Linked DNA regions of Homo sapiens. The protein of the gene in region 3 binds, or shares a complex with, the protein of the main gene of each other region. Each region holds a gene or a part of one and is shown on either strand. Other genes may lie near its edges.

What was found. Proteins that work in one complex are often made in the same cells at the same time.
Region 1: WASHC3 (region 3) and WASHC1 share a complex: the UniProt entries of both Homo sapiens proteins name them as parts of the WASH core complex.
Region 2: WASHC3 (region 3) and WASHC4 share a complex: the UniProt entries of both Homo sapiens proteins name them as parts of the WASH core complex.

The regions. Positions count from the first base shown.
Region 1 is NC_000009.12:26,457-34,013, reverse strand, and holds the start of WASHC1 (WASH complex subunit 1), read left to right. Parts: upstream 1-4,557; 5' UTR 4,558-4,665; coding exon of another isoform or gene 4,666-4,702; intron 4,703-4,780; exon of another isoform or gene 4,781-6,358; coding exon of another isoform or gene 6,359-6,360; exon of another isoform or gene 6,361-7,557. UniProt on the Homo sapiens protein: Acts as a component of the WASH core complex that functions as a nucleation-promoting factor (NPF) at the surface of endosomes, where it recruits and activates the Arp2/3 complex to induce actin polymerization, playing a key role in the fission of tubules that serve as transport intermediates during endosome sorting.
Region 2 is NC_000012.12:105,138,700-105,145,730, forward strand, and holds part of WASHC4 (WASH complex subunit 4), read left to right. Parts: intron 1-1,594; coding exon 1,595-1,702; intron 1,703-2,199; coding exon 2,200-2,346; intron 2,347-2,467; coding exon 2,468-2,547; intron 2,548-3,753; coding exon 3,754-3,859; intron 3,860-4,427; coding exon 4,428-4,544; intron 4,545-5,587; coding exon 5,588-5,756; intron 5,757-6,018; coding exon 6,019-6,173; intron 6,174-7,031. UniProt on the Homo sapiens protein: Acts as a component of the WASH core complex that functions as a nucleation-promoting factor (NPF) at the surface of endosomes, where it recruits and activates the Arp2/3 complex to induce actin polymerization, playing a key role in the fission of tubules that serve as transport intermediates during endosome sorting.
Region 3 is NC_000012.12:102,012,310-102,016,992, reverse strand, and holds the end of WASHC3 (WASH complex subunit 3), read left to right. Parts: intron 1-3,800; coding exon 3,801-3,885; 3' UTR 3,886-4,153; downstream 4,154-4,683. UniProt on the Homo sapiens protein: Acts as a component of the WASH core complex that functions as a nucleation-promoting factor (NPF) at the surface of endosomes, where it recruits and activates the Arp2/3 complex to induce actin polymerization, playing a key role in the fission of tubules that serve as transport intermediates during endosome sorting.

The sequences.
Region 1 (7,557 bases), on a different chromosome or scaffold from region 3:
TTCTGCCTTTTACCATTTTTGTGTATGCTTGCCTTCTTCCCACCTGGGACTCTGATGCAGCACCTGTGAATGGGCACACATATTACAACTCTTAGGCTGAAACCCACGTTCTCAGGCAGAGGTCTCTTGTGGGCATTTAGTGCTATAAATGTCTCTTTACACACTGCTTTAAATGCGTCCCAGGTCTTAGGGTATATACCCAAAGGATTATAAATCGTGCTACTATAAAGACACATGCACATGTATGTTTATTGTGGCAGTATTCACAATAGCAAAGACTTTGAACCAACCCAAATGTCCATCAATGACAGACTGGATTAAGAGAATGTGGCACATATATACCATGGGATACTATGCAGCCATTAAAAAGGATGAGTTCATGTCCTTTGCAGGGACATGGATGAAGCTGGAAACCATCATTCTGAGCAAACTATCACAAAGACAGAAAACCAAACACTGCATGTTCTCACTCACAGGTGGGAATTGAACAATGAGAACGCTTGGACATGGGGCAGAGAACATCATACACTGGGGCCTGTCAGTGGGTGGGGGGCTGGGGGAGGGATAGCATTAGAAGAAATACCTAATGTAAATGACAAGTTGATGGGTGCAGCAAACCAACATGGCACACGCATATCTATGTATCCAACCTGCACATTATGCACATGTACCCTAGAACTTAAGTATATAAAAAAAAAAAAGAAAAAAAAACTTTCACCTTTTTCCAAAGTGTTGGGATTATGGGTGTGAGCAACCACATCTGGTCCTTTTTTTTTTTTTTTAATGGAGGTGAAATTCATATAAGTTTGGCCATTTTAAAGTGAACAATCAGTGGCATTCAGTACATTCACCATGTTGTGCCAACACTATCTCTATGTAGTTCCAAAACATTTTCATCAGCTCAAAATGAAACCTTGTACCCATGAAGCAGCCACTTCCCATTCTCCCCTCCCCTTAGCCCCTGGAAATCGGCTTTCTTTCTCCACGGATTTACATATTCTGTATATTTCCTATAAATGGAATTACACAATAGGTGACCTGTGTCTGGCTTCTTCCACTTAACCTAATGCTTTTGAGGTTCTGTCACATGGTGCCATGGATCAGCTCTGCCTTCCTTTTTATGACTAATACTCCACTGTATGTCCATATCACCATTTGTGTATTCACTCATTAATCTATGGACACAAGCCTCATTTTTAAGCACTTCAAATATGTTAACTCACTGAATCCTCACCACAAAGACAGATTCAGTTATTACATATTGACAGAGTGAAAACTGAGGCACAGGTAACATGCCTAGGATCACGTGGCTATGAAGCAGAAAGAGGACTCCAGCCGAGGCAGTCTAGTCCCAAAGTCCTTCCCTTCCTAGTAACCACTATGCTCTCCTGCCTCTCAGAGAACAACCCACATGGCACAACACGAGGGCTAAGCTGTCTGGTCTGTCGGGTGAAGCTTCAAATGCTGTTCATTTCCGATAAGGGGAGGTTCCTGGGCTGCAGAGGCTTCCTAGAGGAGGAAGACCATGTAAGGTCTAACTCAGGGCAGGTCAGGATGGTGTGAACTCACTCTGAACACAGTCACCGATGGGTGTTTAGGAAAATTGGCTCTGGAACTCCCACAGGGAAGGTTCTTATCTTTGCGTGCACAACACAGAGCCCTCTGGGTAGACTTCTAGACCCAGGCCTCTTTCAAATACATTAGAAACCTCAGCAAGATAAACTATTTTCTGTCTGGCTGCATCTGTCTATCTGTTTAGAGAGCAGGACATTTCCATCCTCCTCTCTCCAGGCATCCTTGGAAGTCTTTCCCACAAGCAAGACATCTTGGTGAAATTTAATGCTGCGGAGGGAAGTGGTTTTCAGGAGAGAGGAGTCTGTTCCCAGAACTGTAGCACAAAAGCTAGAGGCTGAGTAGGAACATCTTAAACTAAGTCCTCAGTCTTATTTCCAGTTTTCTTCCTGTAGATCGGGGCTTAGGACACCCTGTCACATTTTCTTCACTCCTCCACCAGGAATTCCTAAAGTCCATGCTCTTGGATCCTGGCAAATCCAGGAGGCTGGGGGATGTGGCAAGCTTCAGCAAGACTGCCTGGGACCAACCCTGCAGCCTTAATTCCCAGGCCCGCTCAGCCCAGCTGGCCAGCAAAGGCAGGCAGAGCTTCTGTGTCCACACATGAGAATGACCTGCAGCTGTTCTTTGTCCAGGCTGAGGTCCAGGATTCCCATTGCAGCTCCTAGGAAATCTTTAAAATTAGGTCGGGGATGAGCCTGTCAGTAGATTAGGTAGGGAACTTTTATGAAGTTGAGGGTGAACCATCTGGAGGGTGAACTGGCTGGTGTGATTCTAGAACTGGGGGTGGTGCCTAGCAGTGCATTTGTGAGAAGACACAGCCAGGCTTGGTATATGATGTGGTGTGTGTGTATATTCACAGGCATCGTGGAGCATATACACTTTTTTTGTGTGTGTTGAAATAAACCTTACAGATTACAAAGTACTTTTTTTTTTTTTTCTGAGACAGGGTCTCTCTCTGTCGCCCAGCCTGGAGTGCAGTGGTACAATCATAGCTCACTGCAGCCTCGATCTCCCAAGCTCAAGTGATCCTCCCGCCTCAGCCTCCCATGTAGCTGGGACTACAGGTGTGTGACACCATGACTGGCTATTTTATTTTATTTTTGTAGAGATGGAATCTCACAATATTGCCCAGGCTGATCTCAAACTCTTGGGCTCAAGCAGTCCTCTCGCGTCAGCCTACCAAAGTGCTAGGATTACAGGCATGAGCCACCACGCCCAGCCAGATTACAAAATACTTTGACATCTTTTCTCTACAGCCCTCAAAAGGAGGCAGGGCAAGCACAATTAAATCCCATTACAAATGGGGTGACTGAAGCTCCATTCATGGCTTGCCCAGGGTCACACAAAGAATGAATAGCAGATCCCTGAGCCTGTGTGCTTCCCTCTGTGCCAGGCTGCTTTACCCAGGCATGGGTGCACGTTGTGCATGGGACATTTCTCCTTTGTTGTGTCCTGAGTACCTTAAGCCACTCAGATATTGCTCAGGTGGAGTGAGGGGAAAATGTTTTCAGGTTGTATTAGTCAAAACAAAATACCACACACTGGGCGACTTTAAAATCATACATTTATCCCTCACAGTTCTGGAGGCTTGGAAGTCCAAGTTCAAGGTGGCAGCTGGACAGGTTCCTGGTGAGGGCTCTCTTCCTGGTTTGCAGACAGCCACCTTCTCTTCGCATCCTCACTTGGTGGGAAAAGACAGAGGAGAGAAAGAGAGAGAGAGAAAAATGAGATAGAGAGAGAGAGAGAAATGAGATAGAGAGAAATGAGAGAGAGAGAGAGAGAGAGAGAGAGAGGGAGACACAGAGACAATGCTCTCTTTTCTTACCAGATCTATAATGAGGGCCCCACCCCATGACCTCATCTAACCGTAATTACCTACCAAAGGCCCATCTCCACATACCATCACATTAGGGGTTAGGGTTTCAACATAAGCATTTGGAGAGGACATAAACATTCTGTCTACAACATGAGTGGAGATCCATCTCTTCTTTACCTCTGGTAAGGGGACCACACGCTGCAGCCAGCGAGACAGTGGCATGTTCTTGTTACAACTCGATCTAACTCCCCCAGAAGAGGAGGCAGGGAAGGCGGACAAAACTGGGAGAGGGAGAGAGTGTTAGGAAGAGAGTAGGGTGGCCAGAGGCAGCAAATAAAATATAAAATGCTTAATTCTGAATCTCAGATAAACAACCAATAATGTTTTTTAGCATAAGTATGTCCCAAACTAAGCTTGGGACATATTTATGCTACGAAATTATTCGTTGTTTATCTAAAATTCAAACTAGCTGGGCATCCTGTCTTTTAATCTGGCAACCCTAAAAGGCAAGGGCCAAAAATGCCGGAGGCAAGCCAACGGATTCCAGGAGGGACAACTGCTGGACTTTGGACTGATGATGCTCTTTTTATATATTTAACTTTTTAAAAAAGCCTCTTTTCTTTCTTTTTACCAGCTTTTCACTAGCTTTTTAAAAATTGTGGTAAAACATACATAACCTAAAATTCACCGTCTAAACCATTTTTCAGCATACAGTTCAGTGGGATTAAGTAGATTCACACCGTTGTGCCGCCATCACTACCACTCATTTCCAGCACCCTTCCATCACCCCAGCCTGAAACTCTACCCATTGAACACGAGCTGCCCAACTCCGCCTTGCTTCCCCATTCCTGGCGACCACTGCTTCTGTCTCTGTGAATTTTGACTATTCTAGGCACTTCACAAAACTGGACTCATACGATATCTGTAGTTTTGCGTCTGGCTTCTCTATTGAATTCTTAAAGGGGGGTGGGAACTAAGCAGATCACAAGGGAGCTGCCCACAGAGGTAAAGACAAGGTCAGGTAGGCTGAGAGACGCAGGAAAGCGGGTCAAGGCGTAGGGCTGGAGGGCAGGGGCGGGCCCTGGGCGTGGGCTGGGGGTCCTGCCCCGGGGCGCACCCCGGGCGAGGGCTGCCCGGAGGAGCCGAGGTTGGCGGACAGCTTGGCCCTGAGCTTGAGGGGAAGGCAGCGATGGGACAAAGGACGGAGGTCTAGGAAGAGGGTCTGCAGAGCAGAAAGCACGGGTAGGGGCGGCCTGACGCTCGGAAGACAACGGATGGGAGCCGTGTGCACGTCGGGAGCTCGGAGTGAGCGTGAGTTCCGTGCCCAGGCCCGCGACTCGGCCCGACAGGACAGCGCTCCGGGTCGACGGGGTCCTGGAGCCGCGCTCGGGGAGGCGTCTTGGGCTCGCCCCGGAGCTTCCTCCCTGGAGCCGCGCCCTGCACCCGGCCTTGCCCGGCCCTAGCAGGGAAGCCAAGGCTTGTGGGGCGCAGGGACCCGGGCTCTGCGGGGTCCCGGTTCCGCCTCCCCACTCCTGCGTCTTCCCGCCCCTGCCGGGTTCTGGGAAGCCTCGCGCGGCTCTTCCGCAGCTGCTGCCCGCCCGGAGCTCCTGGTCCCTCGTAGGGGACCCCACTTCTCTGACACCGCTTTGGGTTCCCGGGGCCTACAGCGAGGCTTGTAACTCCGGGAGAGACCCTGGAGCGGGGTGTGGGAGAACGGTCTGGAGGAAGGGCTCCGAGCACTTCGAAAGTATAAACCGCGGTCCCAAAGAGGCGTGCTGTGTCTGCATTTTCCTGGGAGTGCACGGTTTACATTCTCGAAAGCAGTGCTGTCGACTAGAAATATTGAGCGATACACATGTACAAGTTTTGTCACTTAAAAAGAATTTGAAAAAACTTCATAGATGCAAAAAAAAAAAAAAACCCACCATTATTAAAGAATACTTAGGTATTTGTGGAATGCATTGAAGAGTTAACAAAATGGATAGGCAGGAAATATCGCAGACCTAGAATGAATTACAGTTACCCACTGTGGAACTGAGGAGCTAGGGTTTCTCATAAAACTCCCTGATAGAAGACGACTTTTGATAAAATTTTTTTTCCGCCAACAAAATCCCCTGTCTTCTCAACTAGTTACTGTCTGTCCACTAAATAAGAGGTGGTCCGTCACTTCTTCAGATGAGCAACTACAGGCTTTTCAAAAGATAATTGCTAATCAACCCCTTTGTGCCTGGGTTTTCTTATTTGTAAAAATAGATACTACTACCTAACTCCAAAGTGTGTGGTGAAGACAAACAATTGGGGTGATGTATACTAAAGTAACGAAAGTGTTGACCACACACTACGGGCTGGTTAGTGTTAGATTCCCTTGTTTTTCCCTCAGTATCAAAAACAGATCTAATTTAGGTTTACATAAAGACAAAGTATGAAGATAAGGTGACTTACAGTTGGTACTACTAACAAAATGTTTGGGCTAATATTTGCATTATTGCATGAAAACAACAAAACATATCAATAAATAACAAAAAGCTTGGAATTCAGACGACAGATCCAAGTCTGGGCTTGATCTCAAGCTAGTGTTTTGATGTTGAAAAAATGTTATTTGGTCTTTCTAACCCCATTTCCTTATGTAAAATAGGGGATGATGATAAATTCACTGATAATAAGAGTTAAATGAGATTCTTGAGGAGTCAGAATGGTTCTAACATGTGTAGGTATTATTAGCAGTCATACTGTAGCATAAGAAAATACCGTCTGCTGAAAGAGGGACAATAAAGATTATCTACATGGTCATCATTTAAAAGCTACCAGATATAGGAAGAAGGGGCCATAAAATGATAACGTTATGATGATTAATTTTGATGCTTAGGTCAGAGTCCATTCTAGGATATCTGCTGCCCAAAAACAGCAGAGACTCATTTCTTTGGAATCACAGGACGCTGAGTGAGAGGAAAGAAAAAGAAAAGAAATATTTAAGTCACATATGTGATTTCTAAAAGTAAAAAGAAACAGATGAAATTAGTGATATATTTTTAAAATCCAGTATATCCCAAATATGGTTATTTTAGCATGTAATCAATATAAAATAATAAGATATTTTACATTCTTTTTTTCTAGCCTTTGAAATTTGGTGCATATTTTACACTTATGGCACATCTCAATTCAGACTATCCACATTTCAAGTGCTCAGTGGCTGCATGTGCCTGGTGGCTACCATATTGGACAGCACAGGTCTAAGGATTTCATTCCTGCCACAAGTCCAAACTCCTAGCTTTAATTTTGAGTGTTTTTAACAAACTGGCCTCTGTTTATCATTCTTTCTTCTAGTACTTCCCCAAGGATGATTGTACCCTCAGCACTCAAGACCGCTTGCGGTTCCCCTACACACTTTTTGTTCAAGCTGTTTCTTTTACCTGGAATGCTGTCTTTGCACCTTCTTCCTGGACCTGGTTCACCCTCGTTGCCTAGGCTGGAGTGCCATGGCGCGATCTTGGCACACTGCAACCTCCACCTTCCCGGTTCAAGTGATTCTCCTTCCTCAGCCTCCCGAGTAGCGGGGATTACAGGCCTGCACCACCACGCCTGGCTAATTTTGTATTTTTAGTAGAGATGGAGTTTCACCATGTTGGTCAGACTGGTCTCGAACTCCCGACCTCAGGTGATCTGCCTGCCTTCGCCTCCCAAAGTGCTGGGATTACAGGCGTGAGCCGCTGCGCCCGGCCGAGAGGCACACATTCTGCTAAGAGCTTTTTCCTGACTCCCCTAACTCCAAGAGGGATTTGTCACTCCTTAGCTTTGTACCCATGACTGGAGTAGAATGAATTTAATTTGAGTTTAGTTGTTTTTGAGACTCTCCCTGGCTAGTGTAGTGTCTTATTCGTCTTTGTTGTGATCATGGCCTGCACCTAACAGATGATCAGTAGATGTTTGCAGACAGAAAGTAAACCACTCATCAGGTGTATTCAGTCCCATTCTTGAACGGGCTTGCTGCCTCCTTTTTGAGGAGATCTGTGTATGTACTCTTCTTTCACGCATATGTGTGAGCAAACACACACACACTAACAAGAAATTCATCTGAAGATGTGCACAGGAAATATCTTGCATCTTTACCCCCTTTGTGATCTTACATATGGGAGAACTGAGGCACAGAAATAAGTTAGGACAGCCAG
Region 2 (7,031 bases), 3.1 Mb from region 3:
TGGAGATTCTGCCTTTGGATTTTCAGCCTTTTTTTCTTTGTATGATTTGTTTATAGATATTTTATGTTAGATTTATTTTTTATGAACTATAAATACAGACAAGTATATGTGTATGTTAGAATATGTATAAATATGTAATACATAAGCATGGTTTTAAAAATAATAACCACTGTCCCACTTAAGAAATACCCACTGTCCCACTTAAGAAATAGAATGTTACCAATATTTTCAAATGCTGTGTTTTTTCCTAATTGCATCTCAACCTGTCCACCTCAGAGGAAACTACTGTCCTGAATTTTATGTTTATCATTCTCTTGTTTTTCTTTTTAGCTTGCCAAATATGGATGAATCAATAAAGCATTAATCGTTATATATGTTTTTGAAGTTTATATTAGTGGAGCAGTATTTTATGTATTTTTTGATCCATTTTTTTATTCAACATTTTGTTTTTTACTCAGCATTTTGTATTTGAGGGTATCCATGTTGGGATGAGTAGCACATCTATTTTCATTGTTGTGTAGTGGATAGACTTCGGGTTGTTTCCGGTTTTTGTATCATAAACAATGTTGCCATCCTTGTATGTGTTTCTTGGTGTACTTGTGCAGGAGTTTTTGTAAGGAATTATATACCTAAAGTTGGTTACTGGATTATGTGTTACGTATATGTTCACCTTTTCAAGATGATGTCACATTGTCTCTATAGACAGACTATATATATGTGTGTGTGTATATATATATATATATATATATATATATATATGCCTCCCACAATACATTAGAAAATTACATTAGAAATAAAATTGTATTTCCAATTGACCAACACTGGTATTATCGAGCTTCATTTTTTAAAATAAATTAGTGGGTATAATTGGTTTTATGATTTTTAATATTTAACCCCTGATTGTTAGTGATGGTAAATATCCTTTCAATTATTTATTAACTATGTTTCTTCTTTTGTGAAAAATCTGTTCATGTCTTTTCCATTTTTTTTATTGGATTGTGTGCCTTTAAAAAACAAAATCTTTCATTCATTTTGGGTCTTCTTATATCCTGAACATTAGTCACTTGTACCTGGTAGATATTTTGTGATACATCGGCTTGCCTTTTTATTTTCTTTATAGAGACTTTTGATGAACAGAAGTGCTTAGTTTTAGTATAGTTGAATTTATCAGTTCTATACTTTGTAAGTTTTTTTTTTTTTTTGAGACGGAGTCTTGCTCAGTTGCCCAGGCTGGAGTGCAGTGGCGCCATCTCGGCTCACCTCAACCTCCGCCTCCCAGGTTCAAGCGATTCTGCCTCAGCTACAGGAACTACAGGTGTGCGCCACCATGCCCGGCTAATTTTTGTATTTTTTAGTAGAGACAGGGTTTCACTATGTTGGCCAGGCTGGTCTCGAACTCCTGACCTGGTGATCCACCTGCCTCGACCTCCCAAAGTGCTGGGATTACAGGCGTGAGCCACCACGCCAGGACTGTAAGGTTTTTTTGTATCTCATTTACAAATCCCTTCCCTAGCCTAAGGTCGTAAAGATCTTCTATAATTTTGCCTGAAATTTTTAAGTTGATTGTCAGAAAATTATTTCTGATTCTTTTTAGGCAATAGAGCATATGTTCTACAGGAGAAGCATGGTTGTGGCTGATTCAGTTTCACATATAACACAGCACCTTCAACATCAGGCTCTTCATTCTATTTCTGTGGCCAAGGTATGCAGCTTATTATGTATTTAGCATAAGTATGTTATCTTTTTTGTTTGTTCTTTCATTGTTTTATATGTGTTTTCTGGTTTAACCTGTTTATTCCATTCCTTCAAACATAATATGCTCGGTTATTTATCTCCATAGTATTTTACAATTTTTACTTCAAGTTATTGGCATTATCTTTACTGTGAAATTGCAGCATGTAATACATTAATACACTTCTAAAAAGACATTGCACTTTTGAAATTGATGCATCATTTAAAAAATGATTTCTTAGTAAATTAACATGGAAATTTTAAAGTATGCCTAATACATTTGCTGTTTCTGACAGTACTAAGGGATCATATTACAGAAGTAAAGTATAAATGTCAGAAGCTTAAATGGGGAAAGTATTTGTGTATGCTCTCTTAAATTGAATCATGGAAAAGATAATCAAGAAGTTTTTCTTCTGAGTCTTTTGTTACTGCCTCAGAAACAAATAGTTTTCCTGTTTTATTTTTAAGAAAAGAGTGATTTCTGACAAAAAATACAGCGAACAGCGTCTTGATGTGCTCTCTGCTCTAGTTTTGGCTGAAAACACTCTAAATGGACCAAGCACAAAGCAACGGCGACTTATTGTTTCTTTGGCACTAAGTGTTGGCACACAAATGGTAAGTGTATTGCTATTACTTATGGAACAGAAATGAGATCTGAGATTTCACAGTTCCCTTGTTACTGACCCTAGAAACCTTTGACTGCAACTTCTCTGCCTTTTTTTCCTGTCCCTGATAGAAAACATTTAAAGATGAAGAACTCTTTCCACTTCAAGTAGTCATGAAAAAACTGGATCTTATTAGTGAACTTAGAGAACGGTAAGTAGGACTGGGATATGCTGTGGTACTCCAAAGACAGGGTTAATAGAAACATTGATTTTCTTTTTAGCATAGCAAGAGAAGAAATAAAATTCAGATCGAGCATTAGTTCCTTTCTGTAACTTCTTTAGCATGACCAAAATGAGATTGTGACTAGGGATCATATTTATTTAGCTTTGCTTCTACAGGAAGCATGTAGCCCCTAGAAAAACTCACATGAGAAAAAGCAGTGCAACCTCAGAGCATCTGGCCGACTTTGATGCATATCGTGATTATTATGTTGGGTATCTTTATTGGACTTAAATTGCTGTATTATAACAGGGCTTCCTCTATTTGTGTGAGACTTAGCAATCCATGATACGTAGTGTTCTATGATTTTATTTTAAGACACGAATTTGAATTAACATTGTTGAATTAGTTTTTGGAAGGCTTATTTTTGTAGCTCCTTCTGGCTTTCTTGTTTTCTTTTTGTTGAGTAAGCGTAAATTTCTTGAAGGGAAATTTGAATTTTGGTTTCCAGCTGAATTAAGGTTACAGCACAATTTCCATTTAGTATTCATATTTATAACTTACTTTTTTGTTGTTCTGGAGAAGCTGACATTTTTCTTGTTATTGGCATTTAATTTTCCACTCTTGGAAGAAATATTGAGCCTTTTTCATTATAAGATAGTTAATGATCATTCTGTTGCCCTTTAAGGTGTGAAATAGTCACTTGGCAAAGATTGTAGACATGTTAAGTGTGGGTTTTTTTTTGGGGCGGGGGGGGTCACAATTTTTTTTTTTTAAAAGATTTTTCTTTCCAACTTAGAGTCAGGGAAAATGGAGCATGTGATGCAAGTATTTAAGTCTAGTCATAGCAAATAATATTGAAAATGAGTTTGTTTTTATTTACCAAAACCAAAAATGGTCAATAAATGTTTATTTTAAACTCTGATATTTGAATATTATGCATATCATTTTTCAAGTATGGTTTACAAAAGCATATGTGCAGAATTCTGACAATGTCAGGCATTGGAGTGTTTGTTACCTTTGTTTCATTTTGATAGTATTTCTTTTGTGACTTTTCTATACTATGTTGGGTTAAGTGATGTAGGGAATGCGAACTGTGTAAGATGGAACTCTTCCTTCTGTAGTAGATGTCATTCCTTTCATATTGTTTTGGGATTCTTCAGTTTTGGTGTGACTGATTACTACTTTACATTGTAGAGTCCAAACACAATGTGACTGTTGTTTTTTATACTGGCATCGAGCTGTCTTCCCAATTTATTTAGATGATGTATATGAAAATGCTGTTGATGCAGCCAGATTACATGTAAGTAAAGAACAATATAAAGAATAATTCTATCATTTTAAAAGTCACTGTGTAAACCGTTTTAGTTTAAAATAGATCATTTGATTTAATAAACTTTTAAAATTGACTGTTTTGTAAACTGCATATTCATAAAGTGTTTATAGTCTGTAGTTAAATTTTATGTTACTGTTAACGAAGTTAATTTATTTAATTTCTTCCTTCATGTTCCTAATCATTTTCATTTCACTTAATTTTAGTTTATGTCATAGTAATCTGACATTTACTCATCAGCAAATTACAATGCAAAAGAAAAAATATTTTTAAGAAATATTCATATTTTTCTTTATGGAAATAAGTGTGTTTAAATGCACAAGATAGGAAAGGACTAGCGAATGTGATTTTTTTTGGGTATATTTAGTTAAAGTATATGCTTTAGGTTCTTTTTCTTTAGGAAAGTTAAGACAGTTGTGGAAAATCATTTTTCCTTCAGATCGAGGTTTTGTCTTTCAAGATAATTAACTTTTGCAGTATTGTTTAGATTAGAGACCTGGTTTTTCTAAATTCATGTACATTTTAATTTTCTTCTTAGTACATGTTCAGTGCTTTGCGCGACTGTGTACCTGCTATGATGCATGCAAGGCATTTAGAGTCCTATGAGATACTTCTGGATTGCTATGACAAGGAAATTATGGAAATTTTAAATGAGGTAACATCATATTTGAGATTGAAAAGCTTAAAACATGTTTGGAATGTAGTGTTTGGAAAAAAAATGTTCGATTGAAGCAGACTCACTGAGTTAAAATTATTTATAAATTGCTGGGTAGAACAAAGAACTATTTTTAGTTACAATATCACTGTTGTGCTAATTGGTCTGTAATTCATTTATTTAGAAATCACACTAGGAATTAGGAGATTTTAAATTTACTTTTGTAAATAGATATTTTAATTTAAAGTTGTTTATTAGAAGAATGCAAATGTGAAATGGTTTTGAATGTTGAAAGCTGCTAATGGTCCAGTTAAAGCAACTTAACCATTAATATTTTACTGAATTTTATTTGCAGAGCTCCTGAGAGAAGGAAATTATATATTTAAAAGATTTAGTGTGTAACAAAAGTAATTTGAATCCAATATGTATGCCCCTCCTTTTGTTAAGGAAATATGTATTATAAACACTGATATCTTTAAAATTAAATTTCCATTTAGTGATATTTTTATTTGGAGGGAGGAATTAAAAATGAGGAAATTTCACAATATAATCCTACCTGGGTTTGATGAAATTGTGAAAAACTTTTTATAATTTCTTGTATTACGTATTCTTATTTAGGAAATAAAATACATGCCTGGATAGTAATTTAGAACTCCTTGGTAGACCAGAAAAGATGATTAATTTTATTACCTTTAGCACAATGAATTTTGTGATTTTTTTTTTAACAGTTATTACAAGGAAGCTTTTTTCTTTTCTCTCTTGCCTGTTCTCATGCCCTTTCCTCCTTTGTTGCTGGTTTCCATAAATTTTATGCTTTAAGTTGCATATTCATGTTCCTTATGATGGTACCATCAATCATTAGTTTTAGATTTTCTTTTCAAGAGTATTAACCTTAAGGTATTGGTGAAAATAAAGACTTAGAATTTATGTAACTGCTTCTGACCAAAAAACTATTGGTTTAAAATGGAGCATAGACATGTAGGGAAACAATACAATTGCAATATCATTTTGAAAAATTAAAGTATCAAATCTTTTGTGAATAGCATTTGCTGGACAAATTATGCAAAGAAATAGAGAAAGATCTGCGACTTTCTGTGCATACTCATTTAAAGCTGGATGACCGAAACCCTTTCAAAGTTGGCATGAAAGACCTGGCTCTTTTTTTCTCTCTGAATCCAATTCGGTTTTTCAATCGTTTCATTGACATTCGGGGTGAGTGTTTTGCTTTCCTTCTTAGAGTCATATTCTCTTTTTTTTTTTTTTTTACCCTACTGTTAAACAAAACTTTGAGGGTATATTTAAATTTTGTGTTGTTATTCTTTAATTACATTTTGTTTCTTTTCTCATTTTTATTAATACCTTATTTTAAAGGAACAAATCTGATGTTCAAGGACAAGTTGTTGTTTTTTCCTTTTAGGTTTCATTTCTTTTCCTTTTCTACTGTTTCACAAGTTGAATTTTTTTTTTTTGGTAGCTTACGTAACTCACTACCTAGACAAGACTTTCTACAATCTAACAACTGTAGCCCTTCATGACTGGGCCACTTATAGTGAGATGAGAAACTTAGCTACTCAGCGTTATGGACTGGTTATGACAGAGGCACATCTTCCCAGTCAGACTTTGGAACAGGTATAGTATAAAATGTTTTTTTTAGCATACTGTGACTGTTGGCTGTAACAGTACTTTTTAAGGAAGTCTTTTTTCTTTTTGCTTTAGTTAGTATGTGCTTATTTTTTAAGAAATTATTTGCCATATAAAATCTTATACTTGACAACAGTAAAAAATTAGGTGCTGCTAAATTGCTTTATAAAGGAATTTACCACCGGGGTCCTGCTTATATTCAGCCTTCTGTTGAGCATTCGAGATATACATATATATTTATATTTATATACAGCTTTTCAGAAACACTAGAATAGTGAAGTGACTTCTGTAGAATTTTAAGAAGTTCAAAGTCACATTTAAGGATTTTAAGCCTGGTTATAGTATATAAAATTTAGTATCTTAGGAAAAATGGTTAAATTTACATGATTACAAATGTGTTTTTTGTTCTTAAAATGAGGAGTATAGGAAAACATTTAGCTTTGCTAATTCAATTAGTTAATGTACAGTATGGCATTGTCTCATGAATGTAATAATTTATGTTATCAGATAATTTGCGTGGAGTTCTCTTTAAGATGATCCAGATAATATTTACCAAAAAACATTTATTCAGTTCTAAAATTTGAGGATTCTAGTTTTCCCTTTATCTTGCTGCATGTAGGGATTATTTCTAGGATCAGTTTGTATATCCTTTCATTTATTTTGTATATCCTTTCATTTATTCATTTATATATCTGATATTTATTGAGAACATGCTAGGCACTGAACTATGTTTAGGAATACAAAGATAAATATAAATAGTCCCAGCTCATGTAATATCCTCTGGGAGAAAAAATGTGTAAACAAATTTTTAGATTAGAATATGATAAAAGTTATAATAAAAACTTA
Region 3 (4,683 bases):
GATGTTATTATACACCACTGTAAATTTCATAAACACTGTACACTTAGACTACACTAAATTTATTTTTAAAAATTTTTTCAATAATAAATTAACCTTAGCTTACTATAACTTTATCAACTTTTTACCTTTTTAACTATTTTGTAATACTACTTAGCTTAAAAGACAAGTCATAAATTTTACAGCTATACAAAAATATTTTCTTTCTTTATATCTTTATTCTATGAACTTTTTATTTTGACTTCTTAAACTTCTTTGCCAAAAACTAAAACACATACAAGGCCTAGTCATGTCAGGATCATCAATATGACTGTTCTCCATATCCTGTCTGACTAAAAGGTCTTCAGGGGCAATAACAGGCATGAATCTGCTATTTTCTATTGTAACAATGCCTTCTTCTGGAATATCTCCTGAAGGACCTCCCTGAGGCTGTTTAACGTTAACTTTTTTTTCAAAAAGTAAGTAGGAGTACCCTCTAAAATAACAACAGAGGCCAGGCACAGTGGCTTACACCTGTAATCCCAACACTTTAGGAGGCTGAGGCAGGTGCATCACCTGAGGTCAGGAGTTCGAGACCAGCCTGGCCAACATGGAGAAACCCCATCACTACTAAAAATACAAAAATTAGCTGGGCATGGTGGTGCATGCCTGTAATCCCAGCTACTCAGGAGGCTGAGGCAGGAGGATGGCTTGAACCCTGGAGGTAGAGATTGCAGTGAGCCAAGATTGCACCACTGCACCCTAGCCTGGGTGACAGAGCAAGACTCTGTTGAAAAAAATATAAAATAAAATGAAATAACAACAGAGGCTGGACGCTGTGGCTCACGCCTGTAATCCCAGCACTTTGGGAGGCTGAGGCAGATGGATCACTTGAGGTCAGGAGTTCAAGACCAGCCTGGCCAACATGGTGAAACCCGCTCTCTACCAAAAGTAAAAAAATTAGCCAGGGGTGGTGGCGCATGCCTGTAGTCTCAGCTACTCAGGAGACTGAGACAGGAGAATCTCTTGAACCCAGAAGGCAGAGGTTTCAGTGAGCCGAGATCACACTACTACTCTCCAGACTGGGCAACAGAATGAGACTTCTGGTCAAATAAAATAAAATAACAGAAAGTACAGTATAGTAAATACTAGGCGATAGAGGTTTCTCAGCTCCATTATAATCTAATGGGACCACCGTCCTATGCAGTTCATCACTGATTGAAACATCATTATGTGGCACATGGCTGTCTCACATTCTGTAACAATTTGTTTGCATTTCTGTCTCCCTCACAAAAATTTTAGCTGCTTCAGGGAAGGAACTACTTGTTATTCATCTCTGTATCTCCAGTACCTAACACATTTTCTAGCAAATAGTAGATGCATGATGATGAAAATAAATCATCATAATAACAGCAGATAATATTTATCTGATACTATGTGCCAGATATTATCGAACACACTTTACATTTATTAATTAATTTAATCATCACAAAATCCAATCAATCAGTCAGACACAAAGTAGTTAAATAGCTTCCCCAAAGTTGGCCAACAAGTAAGAAACAAGGATGGGATTTTAGCACAGTCTGTACCCAGAGCCTATATTCTTAGTTACTATGTAATATAGCATCACATGTATCAATAAATGGTTACACACATAAATTAATGAATTTTATAGTTTCAGTTTCTTCTGGTCCTAAGCTGCTTTTACCCTTTTCCTTTTTTTTTTGAGACAGGGTTTCACTCTGTTGCCCAGATTGGAGTGCCCAGGCATGGTCACAGCTTACTGCAGCCTCTGCCCCCAGGCTCAAGTGATACACCTCAGCCTCCAAAGTAGCTGGCACAGTAGGCCACTACTGGCTAATTTCTCTATTTTTTTGCAAAGGATGGTGTTTTGCCCTGTTGCCCAGGCTGGTCTTGAACTGCTGGGCTCAAGCAAAACGCCCTCTTCGGCCTCCCAAAGTGCTGGGATTACAGGCATGAATCGACATCCCTGGCCTACCCTTTTCTAAAGTAGCATTTATTTTAGGAAGTTATGTACATTGTTGTATTTGTTTGAGTTGTCATAGGTACTAATACAATTTTGATGTGGTATTAAAATAATTCCCACTGGTAATGTTTTCCTACTTAACAAAGTATAGACAGTAAGAAATCAAATATATAGCAAAGAGAAATTTACTGGGTAAAATGTGCCTAGTATTCATACCCACTAATTCTAGAGTTGTTGCTTCTAATGAAAAGGGAGGAAGATGATGGTCCCATGTTAGTATTTTAGGCAGATGGAGCATCAGTCAAATCCTGGAACTGCTGTACCCAGCTTTAAAGTTTCACTGTATTGACTACATAATGCTTCCTTGTAGATATAATCTAAAATTGTTCAGCAGAGCAAATGGGTTTATATTTGACAACTAGGGAGCAATGCCAGCATTATTTTCTCTTTTGTAGTATGCCAAATATATTTAAAAATATAAGCCATAATTTTAATACCTAAAGTAACTGTTAGACTGTGCATTTTCTTATTTTAGTAATAGTAATTTCTGTTTGTGGTGAATATGAGTTTTATTTTTAAGTGTCCTAAATGTTTAATAAGAGTCAAGCCTGAGGGAGAAATCAGTCTGGTAGTTTGTAATTATTAAGATACAGCAGTTATAGGCCAGGCACGGGCTCGCATCTATAATCCCAGCACTTTGGGAGGCCAGAGCGGGTGGATCACAGGGTCAGGAGATCAAGACCATCCTGGCCAACATGGTGAAATCCCGTCTCTACTGAAAATACAAAAATTAGCTGGGCGTGGTGGCACACACCTCTACTCGGGAGGCTGAGGCAAGAGGATGGCTTGAACCTGGGAGACAGAGGTTGCAGTGAGCCGAGATCACACCATTGCACTTCAGCCTGGTGACAAGAGCGAGACTCCATCTCAAAAAAAAAAAAAAAAAAAAAAAAAGATGTAGCAGTTATATTGTTACTCCTTTTCCTCTTGGTTTCCCCCCCAAAAATACTTTTCTTGCTTAATTTACTTTCTTGGTAAGAGTGAATAGAGGCTAAGTGATAATGCCACTACACTGATTAAATGACTTACTGGCACAAAACTATTGAGGCTTAACTAGTTGACTGTTTTAATAACATCATTAAAATTTCATTTTGGTTTATTAGAGCACATCCATGCAAAGTTGGAATCTAACCATTCTCATGTCTCCTTATAATGCCTAGGGGATCTTTGAAACAGTATTTTTGCCAACTCATACTTTCTATTTTCATTCTGTAAAGATAAAACATGTAAGTGAAAACGTTTAACAAACATTAAGAACCTTCTTCGACCAGGCACTCTCCTTCGCTACAAAATTTCCACATTACCTATTTTTTTATTAGCCATTTTTGAACTCTCTTCCATTTCTAAGTTTCTCCCTGCAGCTTTCCTGAACATGAAGCATTTCCTTTTCTTTTCATTTCTAGCTTTCCTTTCTCTGTACCTCATGTACACTTGGAAGCTTCAGGGACTTAGCACTGGTCATGCCAGCCTCTACAGATCACATCTCTGTCTATAATTGGGTCTCCATGGTAATGAGAAGCAGAAAGTGCTGAAGTAGCGCACTATGTAAGGACTGGCAAGAGAAAATACTGTCGCGGCCTCTACAGGCATAGCATTGAATCCCCATGGTGCCCAAGAAGCCCGAGAGAAGCACGCTGTGGTGTAGAGCAGGAGACTGAGGACACGGACTTGGCAGATTTATTAGCAGCAATATTCTAAGATGAACCAAATTTAAGAGTTTGTAAGTGCTCTTTTCAATTGGAAAAGACCTTTGAAATTTTTTTTTCTTTTCTTTTAGGAGGCCAGATGCTCCAGTGCCTGATGGCGAAAGTGAGAAAACTGTAGAAGAAAGTTCAGATAGCGAATCTTCTTTTAGTGATTAAGCTTAATTTTGATAAGAATTACATATGCATGCATAGGGGTACATTTACATTCTGTAAGAGATTGAGCCTGAACTCTCTTAGTCATAAAAACATCAAATGGCCACATGTCCACTACCAAGCTTCTTCTATGTTAAAAAAATAATAATAAAGCAGTTTTAACCTGCCAGTATGTCTTGTTGCTAAAATAAAGGGCCTCAAAATGAAAAATAGGATAACCTAAATAAAGTACAATTAGTGCTACAAATACTAAGATAGAATATTTTAGAGATGCAATGAGCAATTACAGTCAGGCACGGTGGCTCACGCCTGTAATCCCAGCACTTTGGGAGGCCGAGGCGAGTGGATAACCTGAGGTCAGGAGTTCAAGACCAGCCTGGCCAACATGGTGAAACCTCCATCTCTACTAAAAATACAAAAAGTAGCTGGGCGTGGTGACAAAAATTAGCTGGGCGTAGTGGCAGGTGCCTGTAATCCCAGCTACTCGGGAAGCTGAGGCAGGAGAATCACTTGAACCCAGAAGGTAAAGGTTTCAGTGAGCTGAGATTGCGTCATTGCACTCCAGCCATGGCGACAAGAGTGAAACTCTGTCTTAAAAATAAAAAGAGATGCAATGAGCAATTTTAAATGAAGTCAGTGTGAGTTTAGTGATCAATAGTAGACCCAATGCAAAAAAAAAAAAAAAACAGTGAATTTGGCTAAGTGAATTATTCAATTTTTGTGAATATTTTAGCATGAAAAGTATATGGATTCATATCATGAGTTGTTAAAGACATTTCTGGTAGAAAGTAATACTGGGTT